Homo sapiens: one gene and its partners. The protein of the gene in region 7 interacts with the protein of the main gene of each other region in a biochemical or structural test. Each region holds a gene or a part of one and is shown on either strand. Other genes may lie near its edges.

Region 1 (3,500 bases), on a different chromosome or scaffold from region 7:
AAGAGAGAGAGAAAACCTGGGTGAAAGAAATCATTTTATTTTCAAATAGAGAAAATACATGTATGATTATGAGAACATGGAAATGGAAACTAATCATTAATGTAAAGAAAAGTATAGCGCAACTTCCAAAATTAAGTATCTGGGAAGGTTTTGCCTGCTCTGAATATCATCTTGCTAAGCTAGTCACTTGACATATTTAATTTAAAAAAAAAGAAAATTAACTAATTTATAAATAGAGCTTTAAATGTTTCAGGGATTTCAATTTATTTTTGAAAGTCCTATTGACTATTTAAGAGAGTTCAGTGCCAAAGTGAAATGCAAGAGTTAGAAAAATTAGGTTTGGGTTTAAACTTTTTAACTTCAATTAAACAACCTAATAACCAGGAACTTTTATACAGGTCTATATCGTTTGTGTACTCTAGGGCCTTTCTTGAACATCAAAATACTCATACAGATAGATACAAGAAAGGCCCACCTTGGACTCCATCCCAAAGGGCTTAATTACTAAAATACCAAGAAAGTCTTGTACTGGCATGCCTCACGGTTAAGACAGATTCATTTCACAGATTATGAAGACAGCCTAATGGCTAGACTCCATTACTGCCTAAAATGTTCTGAGATTAAGGGATGTTCATATCAGACTTTGCTGATTACTATTAAATTCACTGATGAGAGTATGTTGGGTGAATGTTATACTTACTGTTAAAAGAATATTTTAGAAGCTTCTACACAGCAAAGAAAACAATCAACAAAGTGAAGAGACAACCCACAGCAAGGGAGAAAATATTTGCAAAAAGGGATTAATTACCAGAATATATAAGGAGCCCAAACAACTCTATAGGAAAAAATGTAATAATCCGATTTAAAAATGGGCAAAAGATTTGAACAGGCATTTCTCAAAAGACGGCAACAAATGGCAAACAAGCGTAGGAAAAAGTGCTCAACATCACTGATCATCAGAGAAATGCAAATCAAAACTACAGTGAGAGATCATCTCACCCCAGTTAAAATGGCTTATATCCAAAAGAAAGGCAATAACAAATGCCGGCAACAATGTGGAGAAATGGGAACCCTCACACATTGTTGGCAGGAATGTAAATTAGGCAACTACTATGAAGAAAAGTTTGGAAGTTCCTCAAAAAAACTAAAAATAGAGCTACCATATGATCTAGCCATCCCACTGTTGGACATATACCCAAATGAAAGGAAATCAGTCTACTGAAGAGGTATCTGCACTCCCATATTTGTTGCAGCACTGTTCACAATAGCCAAGATCTGAAAGCAACCTAAGTGTCCATCAATGGATGAATGGATAAAGAAAATGTGGTACTTATACCCAATGGAATACTATTCAGTCATAAAAAATAATGAGATTTAGTCATTTGCAACAACATGGTTGGAGCTAGAGGTCATTATGTTAAGTGAAATAAGCCAGGCACGGAAAGACAAACATCACATGTTCTCACTTATTTGTGTGATCTAAAAATCAAAACAATTAAACTCATGGACACAGAGAGTAGAAGGATGGTTACCAGAGGCTGGGAAGGGTGGTGGGGGCATAGTGGGAGGCTGGTGGGGATAGTTAATGGGTCCAAAAAGTAGTTAGAATAAATGAATAAGGCCTAGTATTTGATAGCACAATAGGGTGACTATAGTCAATAATAATTTAATTGTACACTGAAAAATAATTAAAAGAGTATAATTGGATTGTTTATAAAACAAAGGGTAAATGCTTGAGGGGATGGATATCCCATCATGAGGGGATGGTTACCCCATCTTCCATGATATGATTATTACACATTGTGTGCCTATATCAAAACATCTCATGTACCCCATAAAAATATATACCCACTATGAACCCCCTAAAATTAAAAATAATTTTTTAAAATAATATTTTAGGGGCTAAACTAAATCCCAGATGTTTCTTCAAGGTTACAAAACAATATAAGTTGTAGCTTTTTGGGCAAAATATACATCTTTTTTGACATCATAAGTAATAGGTTATTAAAGATGTGGTGCCTTTGAAAAGCCACACAGTATAAAATGGGCCTGGGTGTGATATGGTATTTATGGACATACAGTTAATTGGGTTTTTTTGTTTTGGTTTTTTTGTGTGGTTTTTTTGTTTGTTGAGGTTTGTTTGTTTTTGAGATGGAGTCTCATTTTGTCACCCAGGCTGGAATGCAGTGCCGTAATCTCAGCTCACTGCAATCTCTACCTCCCAGGTTCAAGCAATTCTCCTGCCTCAGCCTCCCAAATAGCTGGGATTACAGGAACCCGCCACCACACCCAGCTAATTTTTGTATTTTTAGTAGAGACAGGGTTTCACCATGTTGGCCAGGCTGATCTCAAACTCCTGACCTCAGGTGATCTGCCTGCCTCAGCCTCCCAAAGTGCTGGGATTACAGGTGTGAGCCACCATGCCCAGCCTCAGTTAATTGTTAATACTACCTCTCTGTACTTCCAGGATCATTAAAACTGGCTGGGAAGCCTGAAATCAAGAATTTCTGCAGAAGATAAAAGAACAGGCAGAGTAATAAAAACAGAAAATCTTGAAATTGTTTTATGGGCTTCCAGGGGAAATGAGCCATTAAAAGAAATCATCTAGATCTGATCTGATCGCCTGGGCCTGGGAGTTCAAAGCTGTTTTGAGCCTAGAAGATGTACAATACCACAGTCAAGACCCTTACTACCTACTTAGACTGCCACAATAGCTTCTAACTTGTGGCATCCTTCCAAATAAGATAACTGGTCCACGGTCCAGGGGTTGGGAACCCCTGAGGTAGAGGATGAATAATGCAACCAACCAACGAGTCAAGTGCATGAAGTATCATTAGTTCTATAATGCTATAAATCAATAAAGGCATTGTCCCCCCCAATTAAAATATGTTCACCAAATCATCCAGTTTAACTAAAGTCAGAACTTTCTCGTCACTTAAAATGAATTGCCTTAATAATGGAGATATACGTGAAGATCAGCGATCTGGGCATCTACAGATCGTGATCAAAAATATGGTTCAATTAAGCACTATATCATCTCTGTAGCTGCTTCAAATTATATGTCATATTTGCCAGGCTGTCTATCAGCCCATAACGTGGTATTAGGGAAGTCTAAACAAAATCATATGATAAACATTTCTACCTTCAAATGCCAAAGAACTAGAACCTTTCATGATTCCTAGGTGTCCTAGAGGTCACATTTTTTAAAAGTCACATTATTGTGTTCATTACTTCATTTTTATGATGGTCACATAATCTATATGTCATTGATGCTCATAACCTCCTCAAAAAAAAGGAATTTCAAAACTTGAGATATCAGCTGTAGCCTCTTATAAGTTATCACTTAGCAGAAAATAGCATTTAGCAGAAGATAGCCCCAAAAATCTTTCATTAAAGTCTTCACTTTCAAAGTCAGTTACATCTGGGTTCAAATTTTTGTGCTACCACTTGCAAAATTTTGCTCCACCATGACAAATGTGGGCTGTGTGACTCTCTGAGCC
Region 2 (3,500 bases), on a different chromosome or scaffold from region 7:
TGCCTGGCTAATTTTTTGTATTTTTAGTAGAGACAGGGTTTCACTATGTTGGCCAGGCTGGTCTCGAACTCCTGACCTCAAGTAATCTGCCTGCCTCAGCCTCCCAAAGTGCTGGGATTACAGGCATGAGCCACTGCGCCCAGCCCAAACCAACTTCTGATCCACATCCTGCCTGTTCCCCCTACCCTGCTTCGACACGTGGGGCTCAGGTAGTTTCCACTGTGAGGAATGACCTTGTTAAGGTTAGGCGGACTCTCTCCACCTCCTCCAAACCTTAGCTACCCAAGGCCAGGAGCCTACCAAGTTCTGCTCTCTTGACTGGGACTGGGAAACAGCGAGCTGTGGAAGGCAGCTCTGCACAGCTCCAGCTCATCCCGCTCAGCTGTGCTGCTTCCCAGCCACTGGTCCACCCTGAAAGGATACACTAGGGCAAGGTGTCTTCTACTGTCTCTGGTCACTCCCCCAGATGTAAGTAATGACATTCATTCACCACACCTCTGTCTTCAAAAAGACAAGTGTAGGATGAAAAGACCCCAGAGAAGAGACGATGTGCTGGCCCCTCTCTAAGACGCCACATGCACCTGCCTATCTTTGCCTCACGCTGCTTAGGCTTTGGGGCACTCTGTCCAACTGTTTTCTTGAAGACTCTTTCCTGAGTCACTTAGAACTAAAGACTAAGTATTGCAAGCTTCAGCCACTTTCTTAAAAATGTGCCTTGAAAGAAAGAGTGGGTGGGTGGTGAAAAGAGAACATGAAAATCTTCCTTACAGTCTGGCTGGGAGCCTACCTATTTTACCTCCAGAGGTATGCTAGCAGACAAAAGCTGCTAGATATGTGCCATGCACAAGGGTAATTTAGAGCCCACATTCCTCTCTCTACCTGGAAAGAAGTACACAGGGGACTTAGGAACTACTTCCTACTTCATGGAAGAAACCTGTCCAGTCCCTCCCCGGGTCTCTCCCATGTCCATAACAAGTTCATGAGAGGTACCAGTGGCAATACGGGTGGAAAAACAGTTCTTCGATGCACTGTCCCAGACTCTGCCAGATGGTTAACATCCCCAATCCCCATGTGCTAAATGCCGTTAGTGCTCCCAAGGCAGTTTTTTTTTTTTTTTGGACAGAGTCTCGCTCTGTCGCCCAGGCTGGAGTGCAGTGGCGTGGTCTAGGCTCACTACAAGCTCCGCCTCCCGGGTTCATGCCATTCTCCTGCCTCAGCCTCCCAAGTAGCTGGGACTACAGGCGCCCACCACCGCGCCCGGCTAATTTTTTTTTGTATTTTTAGTAGAGACGGGGTTTCACCGTGTTAGCCAGGATGGTCTCGATCTCCTGACCTCGTGATCCGCCCGCCTCGGCCTCCCAAAGTGCTGGGATTACAGGCGTGAGCCACCGTGCCCGGTGCTCCCAAGACAGTTAATCCTCCCTCCTCAGCATTTCCGAACACCCCCTGGAGGCCAGCGGTGCCCTGGCTGAGAACCAGAGTCAGCACCTGTACTGCTTTGTATCCCACCGTGCCCAGCATATACTGGGCACCCTGTACTAATTGTGGATTGAATCTAGTAGGAAAGGTCCAGTCACAGACATACTTAGATCCATGTCTCTTACCAAGTAATTTCTGAACCCCTACTGTGTGCTCAGCATCTTTACAGGGATCAAGAGGAAATATGGATCACAGTCTCTACACATAAGGAAGTGGTAGGAAAAACAAGACCATAAAACATTATTCAATATAAGGCAATATATAAGCCAATGCTAAATTGTAAGGTCTGTGAGAAAGTGGATGATGTGATCAGTAAAGGCTGGCAAAATCGGAGGGGGGGCTTTGTGGGAAAAAAACATAAGTTGAGGTGGCTCTTGAAGGAGGTGGGATTGTCTTCATTCAGCCCTACCGATCCTCAGTCTGTCCCTGCCAGGACCGCTGTTCATAGAAAACTCCTCTAAGCCTGTGGTTCTAGGAGCAATTCGGCAACCCAAGCCCTTCAAATCCCATCCCCAGGTGGTTCCTGGAACAAGACGGTGTGAGAAATTTCCCATTCTTTGTCAGAAGACCAGAGAATATCAGGCCTGCTTTCAGGAGGCCTGCTCATCCCAAAGGCAATGGAAGAAACCACTGGCGGAAGTGCCCGTGCGGAGATGCCCAAGACAGAACCAAAAAGCATTTGGTGCTACGTGTACATACTGAGTCACAGGCTCTAAGTGCTGGGGCCCCCAGTTGTGACCACAGACACTCCCCACGTCGCCTGTCCCGTGTGGCCCTGGAATTTACCTGCTGTGGATGAACCTGAGGTCTCAGCTATCTCCTCTGTCAAAGGTCTTCCTGTCTCCTCCCTCGCCAACTATCACCACGTTTCTTAGGCAGCTCGTCCCCATTTCCTCCATTCATCTCTCTCCAGCCACCCAGGCTCCTCCCACAGGCTGTGCCACCAAACTCTCCTCACAGCCCACCTCACCGTCTTCTACGCTGCCATCCTCCCGACATTCAAGCTGGTCCCAGAGCCTGGCTCCTTCAGGAAGCCCAAGACTTGTGGCTTCCCCAACCCTGTTTCCTTTCAAACACGCAAAATCAGTAACACTCCCCCTCCACACCCCACTCATCCTTTACTTGTATACAATGTAAATGGAGAGTCTTGTCTATTTATATACACTATCTATCCAATGTTAGAAAGAATCCCACTTCCCACAGACCATGCAGCTAAGCTGAGGGCTGGGCCTACTTGTTCTTATTTCCGTGAGACTCACCTACCTTCCAAACTCCAGGCACCCCTTAGGCTAATAACATCTAGGGATACACCCTCCTCTCTCATATACCCCATTCTGAGGAGCCACATCTAAACTACAGACCCAGGACCCAGAGTCCCTCCCCCAGTAAGTAAAAATGAGGATTATATGAGTCATAAGCTCTTTCCATATACATGCTCTTAACTTTTGAGACAAACAAATAAACCATTTTTTTTCCCCTCCCACAGGAAGATTCAGAAGAAATCCTTTTGGAATTAAGCCTGGAGTTTCCACCCCATCCTCAGGCTTCTTGCCCTCAATTGTTGACCAAATGCTTCACCATAAGAATGGCCCCATTCCAGAGTCTCCCAATTCTCACCATCACCAAACTCTACCTGCTGGTTCAACTCTATCTCATCTTTCTGCAGCAATGCCAGTTTAGCTTTCTGACATGATTTACGTCTCTCTCAATCAACTAGATATTTTTGTCTTATAAAAGTTTTGTCTCGTAAAAGCAATTTTTTTTCCATGACACAGCCCTCAGGAGATCCTGAGAACATATGCTCAAAACAACTCTTGTTATATGTGCCCACGGCATGTTAAAGTTTTCACTACAGTCCTTATCATGGCTTGCAATCACACACACACACACACACACACACACACACACACACACACACACATTAATAAATAATTACTTGATTAATGTCTCTCCCTACTACTAGACTGTATCACCACTGTGTCCTCTGTGCCTAGTTCTAGATCTTTCCTCAAACAGAACAC
Region 3 (4,069 bases), about 88 Mb from region 7:
AAGCCTGGAATGCTAGACATAGCACAAAAAGTTGAACCAGAATATGGAATGGGGTTCTCAAACTGTATCACTCAGGGAGCTGAGGCACAGGGTGACCCCCATGCTGCCACATTACATATTAGGTCCTGATCAGGATTTTACCCCACAGCAAGGCTCTTGGCTAAGATGTTTCTGAAAATCAGAGGTCTAAAGCAAAAACATAGCCCAGGGGCTCCCAGCTTGCAGCCAGGAGCGCATACCTCGTCTATCCCTGGTCTTGGCTCAGAGCCCAGGTTGAGATGCCAAACAGGAAGTCTCCAGTATCTGGAATCCTTAATACATCACTCTGCATCTTGCTGATCTTTCACAAAACCAAGGTCATACCCCAGAACAGCCCTGTCCTTGTAAGGGCCCTCTGTAAGCCCTGGGAGCTGAGAATGGGTCAAAGGGACTTGCCCTCCCCAACCCTGCTGCTGGCCCTCATCCCCACAAGATGTCTCAGTAAGCTTCCAAACCCACCCTGGGAAGCAGTTCTGTGTTTGTGGCAAAGGATAAACATGAGAGAGGGGCCTAGCCCCTGTTCCAGGCTCTGTACTGCCATCCCCAACATTCCAGGGATCCAGTCTACTCTGCCTATCTGACATGGGGAGTGTAGGGTAGCAGCTATCAAACCAGCTACCCCCAGCCCTCCCCTGGCCCTGGCACACGTAGTCCATCAGGCTACATAGGAGTCCCGGAGCTGAGATGAACTCATTCCACCATGGGTTTGAGAAGCTTCCCTGATGGGCACAGACAGGTGGGCACAGAGGTCAGCAAAGCCCTCCAGGTGGTATGAGGTGTGCCAGAGTGCAGGGAGAGGAGACAGGGGGATAGAAAGACATGAAGACACACACACACACACACACACACACACACACACACACACAGAGAGAGAGAGAAAGAAAGGAATGGGGAAAGAGAGGAGCTCAGAGAGGAACGGAGAGGCAGACAGAGGGAAACAACGCAGAAAGAAACAGAGCCAAAGCCAGAGTGTGGGGGGAGCCGGAGGAAGAAACAAAAACACACACATGTGGAGTCGGAACGACACAGGCAGAGAGGCACAGAGTCGCAGCAATCCAGACAGAAAGAGACACGCAGAAAGAAACAGACAGTGACAGAGAAGATGGTAGCCTCTCTGCCCTCCCCAAACACCTTGCCCCACTGGTCCTGGCTGGCGGCAGGGGACTCACAGGCCCTTGACCTATGCCCAGTAGGGGAAGAGACAGGACTTTTCCTCAGAGGCCTTCAATGAGACCCCATTCCCAAAAAGGTTGGGTCTGACACACAGCAGCCATGGTGTCCACGGCCCCCACTCCCACCCCTGGCACTCCTAGATGGGATCACGCCAAGGGTCTATGAGGAAGCCCCTAGGCCCCCAGGGCCCATCCTTCCTGGTAAGACCAGATGACACTTCCAAATTTATCCCGTTATTTCTGTCCTGAACTGGGCTGGGACAGGATGTTTCCTAAAGGATAAGGACTAGGACGGGGCGGGGGTGTCTGGCACAGGCCCGGCAGCTCTGGGCCCTTCTTCCCCCTGTGGTCAGAATAGACCAGCTGGAGATACGCACCCCAACCCCCGCAGCAGGGCTACTCTTAGGGAAACAGGAACTGGGACTGCAGCTTCCACTGGAAGGAAATGGGGCCACGATCAGACCAGGAGAAGCTATAAGAACTCACTTCATCACAATGTGAGCAGTCCCCACTCCAGGCTGGGAACAAGTAGGGATGGAACCCATTTTCAAAGCAAGAAAGTTTGAGAAGTCAGGGTTGGGGAGTGGAGCAGACAGTGTCAGCAGGGGCATGGGTCCTTGGTTCAAATAAGGTTGGTAGAGACTTAAGAAGAGCTTAGAGGGTGGCTGAACACAGGCTAGTGAAAGACACTGAAGTACCAAAGCTTGGGTGTTACATAGGGGATGGAGGTGTCTATGGCTCTAGGGTCCAAGTTGGGGGGTTGAGGACCTGGAGAATGGCTAGGGAAACAGGTGGTGTCCAAGGTGGTCCAGGTCTCAGTGGTGGCTCCAACGGGGGGCAAGGCGCGGGGTTGGGGGAAGAAGGAAGGGAGGGAGGGAGGGAGGGAGGGAGGGAGGGAGGGAGGTTGGTTGTGGGGTCCTAGGAATCCAGAGAAGGGGCATATTAAGGATCTGGGGTCTCAGGGATTTGAATAATTGGCCAGGATTCGGTGGGGCTCAGGGTCGCCATTCAGATGGCGGACTCGATACTGAAGGGTCTGGGGTCCTGAGGAGTCTCAGTCCCAGAGTTAGGCTTTTGGTCGATCGGGAGTTGGTCTGTCAAGGGCCTGGTCTTTTGTGGGTGATGCTGACACTTGGGGTCTCAGTCCCCGTGGGTCCGGGGGTCTCAGGGTCAGGTTCTCAAACTCCCTGTCTGATAGAGGTCCTGGCCTCGGGTCCCGGAGAGGGTGGGGTCCCTGGGTCGGTTCCGCGGGGCTGTGAAGGGGTCCTGCCCCAGGGGCGCGGAGGCCGGGCGGGAAGGGGCGCACTCACCTGCAGGCGGCGCAGGTAGGCTGGCGGCACGTAGCCCGTCTCACCACTGCGCGCCCGCGCGGCCAGCCACCAGTGCGCGCTGCTTCGCTCTAGCACCAGGAAGGTCTCGCCCGCGGCGAACGCCAGCGCGTTGGGCTCCGCCGAGCGGAACGCGTACAGCGCGCGGTACATGAGGCCGGGCAGGGCAGGTGCAGGGAAGGTGGCAAGGGCTGCGGCGCCACAACGCCAGGCCGGGAGCGCCGAGCCGCGCCGCGGTTGTCCCGCCCCGTGACACACTACGCAGGCGCGCGCGCGCCCGCCCGCCGAAGCCCCGCCCCGGGCTGTATCGTTCCACGCATCGGAGAGCAGCGCCCCCGCGCGGCCCCAAGAGGTGCGGCGGGGCTGGGGTCGACAGCTCGCTGTCTCCTCTGGTCCCTCCCGGCTCCAGGCCCCTCATCCCCGGACACCGCACCCTCACTCCTCACCCCGGCCTCAGTTTCACCCGTCCAGCCCTCTGCTCCCTTTCCCCGCTTAAGTCCGAGCGCTGCGTCCCGTCCTACCTCCCGGTGAAAGCGCGCTCCGCTCGTAGCGGGTGCGCCCCTACCGCCCTGGGGCAGTGGGTCCCATCTACTAATTGCAAGGACGGCGACCTCGAAAGGATGATCTTGCTGATCCGACACTTGGAAGCCCCCGCGGGGCCCGGCTCTCGGTGTGTCTAGGCCTCACCACCTGTCTTCACCGAGTGCCGGTGGTGGCCAGTGGGGAGCAAGTGTGGGGAGAAGGGGGCCACAAAAGCAGAAACCAGGCGGGGCTATTCCCTGTCTAAAGCCCTCCCATCTTTGCTCCCCACCCCTACTCCTCCTCTCTCTTCAGCTATGGCTGGTTTTCTCTATATTGGGCCTTTGCATATTCTGTTCCCTCTACCTGGGACAATTTTCCCTTCCCTCTCCTATAGTATTTGTCCGTCAAGCTCCCACCCCCATCAATCGCTATCATCTTGCTGTGTTTTATTGTCTTTATAGGACTTAAGATTTGCGATGCCCCTTTCTGAGAGCATAGAGGAGGGCTGAAAGAGGGAGTGGGGTACCACGGTGGCCTTAAGAGCCTATTTGATCCACCCAGCTTTCCAGTCAGCCCAGATCTCCAGATATATGAAATCCGTGTAATAAGAGTGCCTGGAAGACCCAGGGAAGAGGCCCTCAGGGTCCTGGAGAGACTGTGGCTGAGAATGGTCCAGCTACGCTCCACAGGAAGCCCGAGCCCAGGAAGCAGGAGGCGTGTACAGGCCAGTGTGTGCAAGTTTTCTATTTTTATCTGTATTTATTTTTTGAGACAGGGTCTTGCTCTGTCGTCCAGGCTGGAGTGCAGTGGGATGATCAAGCTCATTGCAGCCTTGATCTTCCAGGCTCAAGCCTACTGTCTCTGGGACTACAGGCATGCACCACCACACTCAGCTTTTTTTTTTTTTTTTTTTTTTTTTTTTTTTAGTAGAGACAAGGTCTTGCTATGTTGCTCTGGCTAGTCTCAAATTCCCGGACTCAAGCAGTCCTCCCAGTGTTGGGATTATGG
Region 4 (3,500 bases), on a different chromosome or scaffold from region 7:
CTGAAAGATATGACTGAACATACTGAGCATCTAGACTTTGGGAATGCATACAGGTAACAATATCTTGGTTCGGCTGATTAAAAGTCCTCATTCTTAACATCTTAAGTAAATGCTGATCCTGTTTGTTTCAGCACTGTTTAATAAACAAAAAAAATTGTTTGGCAAGCAGCTCTGTTGGAAAGCTATAAGCCTGTTACATGATTGATAAAAAAGGCAATATAAAGTTTTCTCCTAATAAATATAGAACATTTATAAAATAAGACATCAATTCATTCTGTTTTTTTAAAAAAAATCAAGCCCCGAGTTGTATACAAACTGCCACGGTTTTTGATATTACAGTAATGTCTTTTTTTTTAAAAAAAGGAGCATTTGCCTTATTCAAACAGAATCATACTTTGTGTGAACAGTAATAGCATTCCAAGCCCTTTTTTCTTTTTATAAAACATAGTTAAGTGATTAACTTTCCTTCCACTTAAGGCGGGCATATGGCAAAGCTAGGGACTATAAAAAAGTGGTTTTTTTCTTTCTTTTTAAAAATAGACTATTGATCCAAAAGTATTCGTGATGGATTTTCATGGCCGATGTTCACTCAACTTAAACTCCATGAAACTGTTTCCAGTGCTCATATTTACGCTGAAGTACAATGAGGAGCCACTTTTGAAGAAGTATTAGAATGGTACTTTTAAACAAATCTTCACGTGTTTCAATAAAAACAACAACAACAAAAAACTCAGAAGCTATTGGTGGCACAGAGAGCAAATGAAGGGTTGCTATTTTTAAGAGGTCTTCTTGTGAGTCAGCTTGGTTTCGCAGTGTCTAGCAACTTAACACCAATCAGCAATGTAGTCAAAATCTCTGAACATTTCCTGCTCCTCTTCCGAAAGTATCCTTGGTTCTCGAGGTGGAGTCAGAATAGGTGCTTCTGAGGTAAATTCATCATCAAAATTACTAACATCTTCTCGTCCTCTTATGGTAGGTATAAATGGTGGCTTTACTTTTTTGTCCATCAGAGCGCTCCAATCAATTAGCTGGATCATAAAATAAAAAATGACTAGTTTAGTTTGTTAAATCTAATCGCTCTAGTTTCATAAAAAATTTTAAATAGTCACACTTACCCGGAAAAATGGGTGCTTTTTTACATCCTCTGCATCTTTCTCGCTAGCCCCAAGGCGCCGTTCAGGATTTCTTCTTAACAGCTAGCATAATGTAAAATAAAAAAGTTAAAATAAAACCAATAGAATAAAATTCACTGATAAGGATTATTACTTTAAAAAACTTAGATATATTTTGTCTTTTTTTGTCTAAGCCATGCAACATTTATGAACTGAAAAACAGCTTTTAAAGTTCTACTGGGAAATTTTCTTTAGTATAAAAAATTAAAGTAGTCTTTAAAAAATTCTTATCCTTATTTTAATTCTTACCCTTCTCATTATAGAAATGGCTTCTGTAGATAAGAACCTTGGATACCTTACTTCATCATTTACAATACTGTCAAAAACTTCCTCTTCATCATCACCAGGAAAGGGAGACTAGAAGAAATACCTTTGAGTAAGTTAAAGCAAGTTTTAAGGCAGTAAAATCTTATCACCCATTCAAAGTACAACCAAGATCCAGGCAGTGAAAAAGAAAAAACAGACAAAACAACAACAACAACAACAACAACAATAAACCCATGCCTACCAAAACAACAACAAAAGAACTATAAGAAGTGACAACAGATATGTATCTATTACAGAGGGAATACACCATATACTCTTTCTGAAATCTTTAAATTTTATAGACCCTTATAAAAAACTTGTCTATCTCATATATGATATGACTTTTCATTTAATTTCATTCCACTCCATTCCATTTTATTTCATTCACTCAATCACCTATTTGGCCAGACAGTCAATTTTTAGTGTCTAACAGACAGTAGGGAATATTTAGATAATAGATAAATCCTGAAGAACCTCAATCTTGTGGAAAAACAGAAGAAAATGGATAAGGTTAATATGGTAATAAATGTTATAATAAAGGAAGGCAATCTGCGGAAATACATCAGATATAAATGTGCTTTGGATTTTAAAGTCAACAGTAAATTAATGGTGGTAAAACACAATCATGGATTAGCAAGCATAATGACTGTATTAAGAAGCAGCTGCCAACAAAATTAGACTGAAAGGAACCCAAAAAGCACACATTGCCAGGCATTTTTAATGTTCTAAACACAAAAAGTTTTAGGGCATTTCCATAAGCTCAGTATTAAAATCATTTTTCATAATGACCCTGAGACATAAAAAAGTAGTTACATTATATTCAGTATGACAATTTGATTCACAAAGAGAGAAACTTTCAACTATGCTAAAAACGTGTCTATCAAATGTGACTGCCTGCCTCAGAATTTCAGATGGCTTAAAAATCACTCAGTCATTTTTTAAATCAGGAAACAAATGTCTAAATATCATTTAATTCCTTAAAATCACTGAAATGAATTAGTATCTTGAACCTTATTTTCTCACTGGCTATTGAAGAAATATAGGCTTACTTAGCCTCGTTAGATTTGATTTGGCTGCTTGCTTCCAATTAAGTTTTAAAGAATAATAAGCAGAAAGCAATATCCAGGGAAAGTGAGCAATCTTTAAGAATCTGTGAAAATAAATTCAGAATCCAACTTCTTAAGGCTGAGCTTCTAATCTTGCTCACAGCTAAGAAAATTTCAAAGCTTACAGTTACCAAAACCTTAGTTTGTTCATTCACTCACTCAAAATACATAAATAAAATATACTACGTGGGACAATGTAGTACACTCAAAATACATAAATCAAATGTACTACATGGACAATCTAATTTCTTCTGGGGACTGAAACAGTAAGTCAGAAGAAAATTTTATTTTACTAGGATTCTCAATGGGAATTTCAATGGATAATACAAAGACAGCACTTTGGTCTTCTGCTTGAACAATTTTTACTTGAAAACTCATTCTACAAGTCTGAACAGCAAAGAAATATCTATACATTTGTTAAAATATGTAGTATCTTTTTTCTGCAAATAGATTGTAAGCAAACAGGGCTAACAACTGAAAGCTAACAAATGTGTTTTCAGCACATTTAAAGGAAACCAATAGTCTGTTCAGATGTCAACACTGACAGTATCTAAAACCATGTCCAGCATTCTGTTCAATCTCTCTGGTATCTTCACTCCCATCTGAGACAGGAAAAAGGGGACTTGCGATGTTTGTTTATTCCTGGAGTCTTTCCAGTAATCAAAACTAGTAGAAGTATACAAATCTGAACATGTATAATATATCCGGTGAGTTTACAATTATTTGTAATAATAGAGAAATCTGACATAAACTTTAGCCACACCTTACTTTCATCATAGTTAAAAAGGAGTTATCACTAGCATTTCACTAATGCTATAAAATTATGAAGTAGACTGATGAGTTTTAAGTTTAGTTCTTTTCCCAGCTACCCTCTTGTGGAGATACTAAAGAGAAATTGCAAGAAACAACTGTGAAG
Region 5 (3,500 bases), on a different chromosome or scaffold from region 7:
AAGCTAAGGACCAGTAAATGGAAGCCAGGTACAGAGATAACTAGTTAGTAGCTGCTGGACTCCATGCTCAACTCCCCGACCTATGCAATGAAGCAGCTGAAATAAATGACCTCCTGGGTACTTTCTTTTTGTCTCTAAAATTGTACGAATCACATCCATAGTTCTACCAGCCTCCCTTGCAGAGAGAAGAAAACCCTCACCAGCTACTTACAAAGAGCCTAAGAGTGTGGAGCCAGGAGGGATCCAGTTCTCCCTGATGCTGGAAGGTGACAAGTGATGTCTGACGGATATGAGTCCAGAAGTTGCGGGGGGCAAGGGGGCCTGGGAGGTCCCACTGCAGAATCAAGGTCTATTGCAAGCACTGAGTCAAAGATGGCTCACACTGGCCCCAGTTAAAAGAACAGAATCTGCAGCCCTTTACCCTTCTCAGGTCTGGTGGGGTAAAACTTAAAACTCCCCAGGGTCTTAAAGAACGGATCATAGCTGTTAACATTTACCAAGTGACAAGACTTTCTGGGCACTGTCAAGGCTACGTGGGGGTGACCATCTCTATTTTCCAGGTGGCTTCTGTCCTAAATGCTCCAGGGAGCCATCCAAGTTATTCAGAGAATCTACTTCCCCGGAACATGCCCTAATGTGGTACTTCAGCCCTGCCTCCCCCGAGCCAGGCAGGGCCCCTCGCAAGTGAGTCAGTGCTGGCTGGCAGAAAAGCCCCTGGATTCTTGGCTTCGTTCACATGTGCTTGGCCAGCGGGATACACATGCCACACCACTAGCTCCCTCCCAAGGCTTACTAAAATGTTTTAATGATTTCAAATCAAAAGAGAAGTCAACATTTCTCTTTCATTTTTCTACTTTTACGAAAGGAATCAGAAAAGAGAAAATGAAATGAATACTGAACACCCACTATGTACCAAGGATGCCCTAAGTAGAATTAATTTAGAACTATAGTGAGGAATTAATTCATTCCTCACTATAAACTTATGGGGGATAAGTTTTATTATTCCTTTTATGCAATGGAGAAACTGAGGCTCAAAGAGGTTAAGTACTTTACTCAAGGAAATGTAGCTAGCATGTAATAGTGCCTCAAGGTTTTTGGATATTAGAGAACAGGGTGGGAGGAAGTAAATAAGGGATTGATCAAGCCTGACTCCATCTGATGCAAACTCAATTTATCCAAACCAAGTAGATAAGGGTAAATCCAAGGTAACTCTGGTAACAAAAGAGGCTTGATTTGCAGTTCCATTGGTCAAAGATAGACCCTTGTGCCAGGGCATGTTGGCTCATACCTACAATCCCGGGACTTTGGGAGGCTGAGGCGGGAGTATCACCTGAGGTGGGGAGTTGAGACCAGACTGGCCAACATGGTGAAATTCCTCGTCTACTAAAAATACAAAAATTAGCTGGGTGTGGTGGTGCACGCCTGTAATCCCAGCTACTCAGGAGGCTAACGCATGAGAATTGCTTGAATTTGGGAGGTGGAGGTTGCAGTGAGCCGAGATTGCATCACTGCACTCCAGCCTGGGTGACGGAGTGAGACTCTGTCTCAAAACTAACTAACTAAAAGAAAGACCCTTGGAAGCAGACCACAGATGGGCCATCTAGGACACTGCATGGGGCACATTCCCAGAGCTGGGATAGAAGCAGTGCTTGCCAGAGGATGCCCCTAAACCCATATTCCACAACTTACTACATCCCGAAAATACACCTGATGCAGGCCTGTCACCCAGAAACGCACACCTGACCAAGAAAACCCAGGTCCCTTGCTAAGTGTCAGAATACTGAACAAGTTCTCAGGTTCCAATGGGAAAGAGTGGTGTCATGTTGAGATGGTTAAGCTTGCTTCGACTTGGCCACTCTGTCCCCAGAAAAGCCTGCCGCCTCCTCCCAGGTGTGGGCTGGCTGCAGACCGCCCTCTCTCAGCTCCCTGGTCAATGCACTTCAAATTCATCTGCCAGCTTCCCTCTTGTTCTTTCCCAAAAAAGGTACAAAAAGTCTCTTCCTCTCCTACCCCTCTGGCCCTCAAGTTTGACATCTGTAAAACAAGGATGTTAAGAAAACCTGGCCTCCTGGCACCAACTCCTGGAATAAGAAGTCAGCATACACCCCATGCCACCCGCCTGCAAAAAACACAGTGACACAGGCCACTAGTCCAACATGCTGTCTGGGACCCTGCCACCTCCTGCTTCACCTCAGTTTCTCATTCTACTAATTAATGAATTTTTCCAATCCCTTAGAAACAACTTCCTTCCTTCACTGCTTGACAGATAGATGTAACCTGCAGCCTTGCAGGTGTACACAGCAGCTTCCTCCAAGACCCTGCAGCTGGTTCCCCCCGCCCCGTCTCTCCAATATCAGCTAGGCTCCTGGGATTCATGCCTGCATGCAGAGGTCCTCGGTGGGGAGCAGAGAGGGGGCACATCTCAGTTTCCCACTCATCAGAGGGGGCTGAAATACTTGCCTTGCCTCCATCACAGGTGGTTATGAAGACTGAATGGGCTGCATGGGTGAAAGTGCCTGCTGTCTTCTCACTGGAGTACTGATCCAACATACAGGGTGGACAGTGTCTGGTGAGATAGCAGGGGCTGGACGGACCACGTGACCTTGAAGCTCTCCCACTTCTAAGAGAAAAACCTATGAATGTCAGATCTCCTTGTCCAAAAATTATGTAAGGAAAACTAGCTGACGAATTCATGGCCAAATCTTTTTATTCTTTCTGAGACAGAGTGTTGCTCTGTCACCCAAGCTAGAGTGCAGTGGCACGATCTCAACTCACTACAACCTCCATCCCCCAGACTCAAGTGATCCTCCCACCTCAGCCTCCCGAGAAGCTGGGCTAATTTTCTGTATATTTAATAAAAATGGGGTCTCACCATGTTGCCCATGCTGGTAATGAACTCCTGGGCTCAGGAGATCCACCTACAGTGGCCTCCCAAAGTGCTGGGATTACAGGCATGAGCCACCACACCCAGCCTGGGTCTTTTTATTCTTGTCCGCTGGAGACAGTATGAATTCACACCCTTCCACTTATGATCTTGCCACCCTGGGATAGTCACTTAACCGTTCTAAGCCTCGGTTTCCCACCTAGAGGAAGCCACATCACAGGTGATTATGAGGCTCAAATGGGTGGTGTGGGTGACTGTGCCCATTCTCTCCTCTCTAAAGTACCAACCAAATGTAAAGAATTATGCATTTGGATTTCAGATATAATATTAAGATATTTATAATTCTCTTTGTGTAGTGCTTTGAGTCACTCCTTAATAGCACTCTCAGGAGATTTGGTAATTGGCAGCAGAAGGACAGGAACTTCCAACCTTTCCAAAGGCATTTCTCACTCTCCATCTTCATGTCTTATATTCTAGACCTGTGGCCCACACAGTGGCCACTGCACACTTGAAATGTGGCTGGTGCTAACGGATATGCTATAAGTAAAAAGTATACACCGCATCTTAAAAACTTGTTATGAAAAAAATGTAAAGTATCTCATCAATAATTTCTATA
Region 6 (3,500 bases), on a different chromosome or scaffold from region 7:
TGTAAAAATTTTCTAATTACCTCAATTAGATTAGTATTGATTGCACTAAAGAGAATCATGTAATGGGCCTTCAATAGAAAAAACAAAATCGTGCATATTGGCTTCCAATGCCAAATCGATAGAGAGGAAGGTGGTTTTAAGAGTGGAACAGAGTCAACCAGGCCTGCCCAGCTCTCCTGAAGGCTTGCCCACCCACCGCGTGTGGTCTTAGTTGGCATCATGCATGTGTGAGGTCTTTGTGAATTTCACATCACAGTTAGCATGTGTGTGTGGCACCATCTTTACATCTGGCGAGGCACGTAATGGTGGCACACACAATGTCCCCTAGGAATGATGCTAGGGACACCAATGACAGCTTCCCATTCCCCGCAGGTATCTCTGCTGTAGTCATCAGTTGCTTAGCAAAGAACATGATCACTGCTTGATTATAATAATATTAACAGATTACAAAGTGAGTTCCTCAACATCCTTGTGAGAAACGATTAATCATGTCCTATTTTTCAGAGGAAAGTGAGGCTTACAGAAGGGACATGCTTTATCCAAGGCCCATAGAGCTAGTAACTGATTCACGTGGGGGGGCTTCAGAGCCCACCTCCTCGTCATGAGATGAAGTGGACTCTCTGACAGGCTTCATGCCAGGGGCTGGCCCCACTCTGCTGACAGAGGCTGGAGGTACCCCTGGGCCTCCCCAGGCTGATCCCTTCAGTCCAGTTTCTCAACCATGGTGCTACTGGCATCCTTGCTTGTGGGGGCTCCCTGAGTACTGGAGGATGTTTAGTGGCATCCCTGGCCACTAAACTTCCATCTACTAGTTGTTGGTAGCAACCCCCTTCCTAGGTCCTGACAATCAATATTTCCAGATATTGTAAATGTCCCTGGAGGGCAAAATTGCCCCAGTTGAGTCCAAACAAAATCCCTACAGCTGTGATTAAGAATCTGAGGTCACTGTCTAGGCCTGAAGGAAGAAAAGTCAAAGGTGAATGTGTGCCCATGCCTATGTGTGTGTGCACACATGTATATACATATGTATTTCTGGGTATTCTTAGGTACTGCTGGCTCAACTGCGAGCCTCAGGTCCCTTCCTGGCAGACAGAACTGAGTCCCTCTTGGCAGGACGGGGCTCAGGCTGCCAAGGAAGGGGAATTTTCACCCTGATGTCAGGAAATGATCAACAAGGAGAGCAGAAGAGGTGGCTTATTCACTGTACCTTGGCCTGGCAGTTCCCATCGGGAGACTTACTCCCTGGCAACGTGAAAACCAATAGATGTGTGGACTGCCCTCGCAGGTCACTCACAGCCTGGGTACCTAGCAGGGCCTATGAGGATGCTGATGTCTTTCCCTCCTGATGCCTGAGCTGCAGGTTTTAATGTAAAAGGAGTTTTCATAGATATTTTCATTTAATCTTTTCCTAAAATTACGTGGAGAAGGTGTCTTGGCCTATTTGACAAAGAAAGAACTGCAGACTGGATTAAGAATTGAGTCTGAGGACTTGTCAACTGCTCAGCCTGAGCAGGAACTTGGGCATTCTGATTCCCAGCCTGGGGACAGTGTGGAATGGTGAGCAAAGCACATAGGCTCTGGGGTCAGGGCCGATCTGGAATCTTGACTTAGCCTGCTTACTGGCTGAGGGACCACAGGCAACATGCTCAACTTTCTTCCGCTTTAGTATTTATATGAAAAATCAGAAAATGCCTACAACTCACAAGGTTACATGATACCATGGGTAAAGTACATACAAATGTTAATTCTCTTGACCTGTCTTCAAAGCCCCATGGCTGTTTTTCTTTTTTTTCAGATGGAGTCTCGCTCTGTTGCCCAGGCTGGAGTGTAGTGGTGTGATCTCATCTCACTGCAACCTGTGCCTCCCGGGTTCAAGCGATTCTCCTGCCTTGGCCTCCCGAGTAGCTGGGACTACAGGTGCGTGCCACCATGCCCAGTTAATTTTTTGTATTTTTAGTAGACACGGGGTTTCACCATGCTGGCCAGGCTGGTCTCGAACTCCCGACCTCGAGATCCATCCGCCTCAGCCTCCCAAAGTGCTGGGATTACAGGCGTGAGCCACTGTGCCCGGCCAGCTCCACGGCTGTTTTTCTAGCATGTAATAGTGTGTGACATAGAAAAGACACCAAATGCAATGGCTGTTGGGTGAGTGATGCAGCTGACAGGGTCCTTGTGCTCAAGAGCCCTCTTTTACTGCACTGTCTGTAGGCTCCAATGTGGTGCCTGCCCAGGCATGCTGTATGAATGTACGGATGAAGTGGATGGATATTCGTACGTACCCACCACTCCTGGTCCTCTTCCCCTGTGACGATAATCACTTCTCCCTCGATGAATGTGAGCTCGTCATCGTTGTCTGCCTGGCAGTCATAAATGGTCTTCACTCGCCTCACTTTATTTTTCCCCTTAAAGAAAGAAACTGGGTTTTAATTGAAAGAATGGACTGAATGGAAAAAAAGAGCAGCGGTTCTTTGTAAAATGGTTGACCTTGGCCAGTAACTTAACCTCGCTGAGCCTTGATTTCCTCACCCTTGAAGGGCGGGAAGAAGAGTGTCTGTCAGGCACCCAGCATACTGTGTACTCTTAACTACAGGCCCTTCCTCTCCCCCCATCATCAGGGTGGCCCTGCATTGGTGATTGGGCATCATCAAGTTATTTTCACCAGAAAGCAAACACTATGGGTAGGGATCAAAATTGAGCTTCACCAAAAACCATCAAGCACTCTGTACGCACCCCCAACCCACATCAGCTTGCAGAATGACAGCAGAGTCTAAAAATGTTTTTAGGAAACATGATGTAAAGCAAAATCTGCAGCTTCTGCATAATGAATGTGCAGCATAAACAAATTTGTCAGTCCCCTCATGCAAAACAGCAAGTCAGTACATGCTGGTTAAACACAGCAGGATCGGCCTGGGGCTCGGAGAAGTCTATGCAGTTCCTAAAACAGTTTTAATTTTTGATTAGTTTTGATTTGAGCATTTATTTGTTGAACTTCCAGTTCTTTGCAAATAGAAAAGTGAAAATAGAGGTATCACCTTCTAAATGATGGGTTTTTGTTTTGCACCTGGCTAATTGGCAATTTTAAAAAAAGCAAGCTGTCTCTTTAAATGTTTTGGGTGGAGTGCCTCTTCCTCTCTGTCCCCTGGTTTCTCCTTTAATCACCCTGATAGTTCCAGCTGCTTTCCGAGCTCCCTTCTGGGCCGTGCGGGTGGGTTGGAGAAGCCTGGCAGAACTGTGGCAGTGACTGCGTGAGCAACTGAGAGGCCTGTAGTGTGTTAATTTATAACACAGAGATTAAATGACATAATAAAACTATATAGTGTGTAGCATGAAATGAAAATTTTGCATCAGTGGTGCTTGGGAGTCATGGGAGAGTTCCCTTTTGAATAGCAGAAGTATCCACCATCAGACACGGCAGCCTCCAACCTACAGGAAGATGGGTTTTATTTTTCTTAATTTAAGTATTGATATGACACACTTTTACTGCAACATTTAAATTTTTT
Region 7 (3,500 bases):
AAAAGACAAACTAAATTGCAGCAGTAAAACCTGTAAGAGATTCATTTTTTAGCAGATGATAGAATTCAATGGTAAACACTGGCCAGGTGCGGTGGCTCATCCCTGTAATCCCAGCACTTTGGGAGGCCAAAGCAGGCTGATTAACTGAAGTTAGGAGTTGGAGATCAGCCTGGCCAACATGGTGAAACCCTGTCTCTGCTAAAAATACAAAAATTAGCCAGGCATGGTGGCAGGCACCTGTAATTCCAGCTACTTAGGAGGCTGAGGCAGGAGAATCCCTTGAACCTGGGATGCAGAGGGTACAGTGATCCGAGATTGCCCCACTGCACTCCATCCTGAGTGACAGAGCAGGACTCCGTCTCAAGAAAAAAAAAACTCAATGGTAAACATGACAATATTATTTTTGTTAATGGTGTTAATACACCTAACAAGTATAGGGGAAAGAAACTGTATATAGACTTTATATCATTGTTTAAATAATTTACAATGTAAGGCTGGGCATGGTGGCTCATGCCTGTAATTCCAGAACTTTGGGAAGCCAAGGTGAGCGGATCACCTGAGGTCAGGAGTTTGAGACCAGCCTGGCCAACATGGTGAAACCCATCTCTACTAAAAATACAAAATTAGCCAGGTGTGGTGGCAGGTGCCTGTGATCCCAGCTCCTCAGGAGGCTGAGGCAAGAGAATTGCTTGAACCCGAGAGGCGGAGGTTGCAGTGAGCCGAGATCATGCTGCTGCACTCCAGCCAGGGCAAAAACTGCGAAACTCTGTCTCAAAAAAAAAAAAATTTACAATGTAAATATGAAGGTTCCCCTGCCCTGAAGTTTTCAATCTATGAGAAGGCATAAATACACAAAATGCAAAATAATGTGAGGCAAATAAGGCAAAATTACAAGAGATGAGAAGTAGTATGGTTTCATAAACACACAGAACTTGCGTCAGAAGATCAAGGGTTGAGTCTTTGTTCTGCCCCCATCACTAAATGTTTGAATTTTGGTGCATCTAGTCTATTTGTATTTCAGTTTCCTTATCTGTAAAACACAAGGTTGGATTCCAACATTCCAGCAATAATGCTCTATAATTCTATGATTCAAGTCCACACAACATTAAAAACCAAGGGAATACTAAAATAATAAGGGGTATGGGTTTAAAGGAAAGCAACAGACCAGGCACAGTGGCTCACCCCTATAATCCCAGCACGTTGAGAAGCCAAGGTGGGAGGATCGTTTGAGGCCAGGAATTCAAAACCAGTCTGAACAACACAGTGAGACCCTATCTCTACAAAAAAAAAAAAAAAAAAAAATTAGCCAGACATTGATGCACACCTGTAATCCTGGCCTTTGGGAGGTTCAAGTTACAATGAGGAGCTGTGATCAGGCCACTGTACTCCAGCCTGAGCAACAGAGCGAGATCCTGTCAAAAAAGAAAGAAGAAAGAAAGAAAGAGAGAGAGAGACAGACGGACGGACAGACGGATGGATGGACGGAAGGAAGGAAGGAAGGAAGGGAAAAGAAAGAAAAGAAAGAAAGAAGGAAGGAAGGAAGGAAGGAAGGAAGGAAGGAAGGAAGGAAGGAAGGAAAGAAAGAAACAAAGAAAGAAAGAAAGAAAGAAAGAAAGAAAGAAAGAAAGAAAGAAAGAAAGAAAGAAAGAAAGAAAGAAAAGCAAGCAACATAGGGAACAGGAAAAACATTTGGAAGACTGCACCAAAGGACCAAAAGCGAAAATTCAACAAATTTTACTTCATTTGCTACTTGGTAATTTAGGAGAAAAAAAAAATTTTAAAGACTAGGCAAACTGGACGGGCACAGTGGCTCACGCCTGTAATCCCAACACTTTGGGAAGCCGACGCATGTGGATCACCTGAGGTCGGGAGTTCAAGACCAGCCTGGCCAACATGGTGAAACCCCATCTCTACTAAAAATACAAAATTAGCCAGGCGTGGTGGCATGCACCTGTAATCCTAGCTACTCGGAAGACTGACACAGGAGAATCACTTGAACCAAGGAGACGGAGGTTGCAGTGAGCCAAGATGGTGCCACTGCACTCCAGCCTGGGTGACAGAGTGAGACGCCTCAAAGAAAAAAAAAAAGAAGAAAGAAAGAGGCCAGGCACAGTGGCTCACACCTGTAATCCCAGCACTTTGGCAGGCTGAGATGTGTAGATCACCTGAAGTGAGGAGTTTAAGACTGGCCTGACCAACACGGAGAAACCCCGTCTCTACTAAAAATACAAAATTAGCCAGGCATGGTGGCGCATGCCTGTAGTCCCAGCTACTAGGGAGGCTGAGGTAGGAGAATCGCTTGAACCCGGGAGGCAGAGGTTACGGGGAGCCGAGATCGCACCATTGCACTCCAGCCTGGGCAACAGAGCGAGACTCTGTCTCAAAAAAAAAAAAAGAAAGAAAGAAAGAAAAAGGAATGATACGAAGGTACAAAAATACAAAGAGTAAATAAGAATCAGAGATTGGTTTGGTTAGAGTGGACAGCTCCTATAAAGAAATAGTGCTGGCACTGATTAAAAAAAAAGAAAGAAATAGTGCTGGCCCCAGAAAAACAGGTTTGAGCAGACTGTTATTAGGCTATGAATTCTGAACTATACTCTGAAGATAACAGAGAGTTATCACTGGTTTCCGAAAAGTGAAGGATGTGTTTGAAGCATAATTCTAAGATTTAGGAAGACATACTAAGTAGAGAGAAAAATCAAGCAAAAAACCCAATTAAAGGCTAGTGAGTAGTTCAAAGATAAAAATGGCTGGCAAAAATCAGCCAATATTGTTACACGCATAGAGATAAAACCAAAGTTTGTGTCTGGGTAATTGAAAGCATGGTAATGTCACCAAAACAAAGTCAGCATATGGAATCAGTTTTGAAGGGAAGACTATAAATTCTATCTTCATTAGAGTTTAAGGTGAGGATCAGCCAGACATAAAGTTTCCTTAAATCTTTAAATGTCATATTTAGCCTTGTTGTCTTCCTAACATCACAGTATTTATAGAGAATTTGTTAACTGCTCAGTGATTTCAAAAGTTCCCTTCAATTTTACTTATTAATGAAATAATCATTTAATTTTCTAGTGCAGATAAAGAACATTTGGTATTTTTCTATATTATAAAGGTAAATTCTAAAAATTATTAAACCATGATTTTAAAAATGAACTGTATCTGTATTCATTAAGTCAAGTCTTCCTGACAAGTGATTTATAATAATCACATCAAATATACCTTCAGCTTTGAAAAACACATGGTGAAAAAGTAAAATAAGACAAAGTAAAAGTACAAAGCAATGAAAATGTAAAACTCTAGAAAATTTTTGAAAAATGAATATAGGCCAGCCACGGTGGCGCACACCTGTAATCTCAGCACTTTGGGAGGCGGAGGTGGGCAGATTGCTTGAGGTCAGGAGTTCGAGACCAGCCTTGCCAACATGGTGAAACTCCGTCTCTACTAAAAATACAGGCCGGGCGTGGTGGCTCATGCCTGTAATCCCAGCACTTTGGGAGGCC

The links.
Region 1: the proteins of NCK1 (region 7) and ARHGAP32 form a complex in vitro, tested with the Homo sapiens proteins (one study listed by BioGRID).
Region 2: the proteins of NCK1 (region 7) and MINK1 form a complex in vitro, tested with the Homo sapiens proteins (one study listed by BioGRID).
Region 3: the proteins of NCK1 (region 7) and NCKIPSD form a complex in vitro, tested with the Homo sapiens proteins (one study listed by BioGRID).
Region 4: the proteins of NCK1 (region 7) and PKN2 form a complex in vitro, tested with the Homo sapiens proteins (one study listed by BioGRID).
Region 5: the proteins of NCK1 (region 7) and FGFR1 interact in a test that uses a peptide from one of them, tested with the Homo sapiens proteins (one study listed by BioGRID).
Region 6: the proteins of NCK1 (region 7) and ASAP1 form a complex in vitro, tested with the Homo sapiens proteins (one study listed by IntAct).

Annotation. Positions count from the first base shown.
Region 1 is NC_000011.10:129,185,826-129,189,325, forward strand, and holds part of ARHGAP32 (rho GTPase-activating protein 32), read right to left. Parts: intron 1-3,500. UniProt on the Homo sapiens protein: GTPase-activating protein (GAP) promoting GTP hydrolysis on RHOA, CDC42 and RAC1 small GTPases. May be involved in the differentiation of neuronal cells during the formation of neurite extensions.
Region 2 is NC_000017.11:4,839,840-4,843,339, reverse strand, and holds part of MINK1 (misshapen-like kinase 1), read right to left. Parts: intron 1-3,500. UniProt on the Homo sapiens protein: Serine/threonine kinase which acts as a negative regulator of Ras-related Rap2-mediated signal transduction to control neuronal structure and AMPA receptor trafficking.
Region 3 is NC_000003.12:48,683,116-48,687,184, forward strand, and holds the start of NCKIPSD (NCK-interacting protein with SH3 domain), read right to left. Parts: upstream 2,801-4,069; 5' UTR 2,693-2,800; coding exon 2,522-2,692; intron 1-2,521. UniProt on the Homo sapiens protein: Has an important role in stress fiber formation induced by active diaphanous protein homolog 1 (DRF1). Induces microspike formation, in vivo. In vitro, stimulates N-WASP-induced ARP2/3 complex activation in the absence of CDC42.
Region 4 is NC_000001.11:88,830,773-88,834,272, reverse strand, and holds part of PKN2 (serine/threonine-protein kinase N2), read right to left. Parts: intron 1,530-3,500; coding exon 1,422-1,529; intron 1,197-1,421; coding exon 1,116-1,196; intron 1,029-1,115; coding exon 825-1,028; 3' UTR 1-824. UniProt on the Homo sapiens protein: PKC-related serine/threonine-protein kinase and Rho/Rac effector protein that participates in specific signal transduction responses in the cell.
Region 5 is NC_000008.11:38,458,636-38,462,135, forward strand, and holds part of FGFR1 (fibroblast growth factor receptor 1 isoform 1 precursor), read right to left. Parts: intron 2,621-3,500; exon of another isoform or gene 2,472-2,620; coding exon of another isoform or gene 2,461-2,471; intron 1-2,460. UniProt on the Homo sapiens protein: Tyrosine-protein kinase that acts as a cell-surface receptor for fibroblast growth factors and plays an essential role in the regulation of embryonic development, cell proliferation, differentiation and migration.
Region 6 is NC_000008.11:130,055,675-130,059,174, forward strand, and holds part of ASAP1 (arf-GAP with SH3 domain, ANK repeat and PH domain-containing protein 1), read right to left. Parts: intron 2,403-3,500; coding exon 2,280-2,402; intron 1-2,279. UniProt on the Homo sapiens protein: Possesses phosphatidylinositol 4,5-bisphosphate-dependent GTPase-activating protein activity for ARF1 (ADP ribosylation factor 1) and ARF5 and a lesser activity towards ARF6.
Region 7 is NC_000003.12:136,865,208-136,868,707, reverse strand, and holds part of NCK1 (SH2/SH3 adapter protein NCK1), read right to left. Parts: intron 1-3,500. UniProt on the Homo sapiens protein: Adapter protein which associates with tyrosine-phosphorylated growth factor receptors, such as KDR and PDGFRB, or their cellular substrates. Maintains low levels of EIF2S1 phosphorylation by promoting its dephosphorylation by PP1.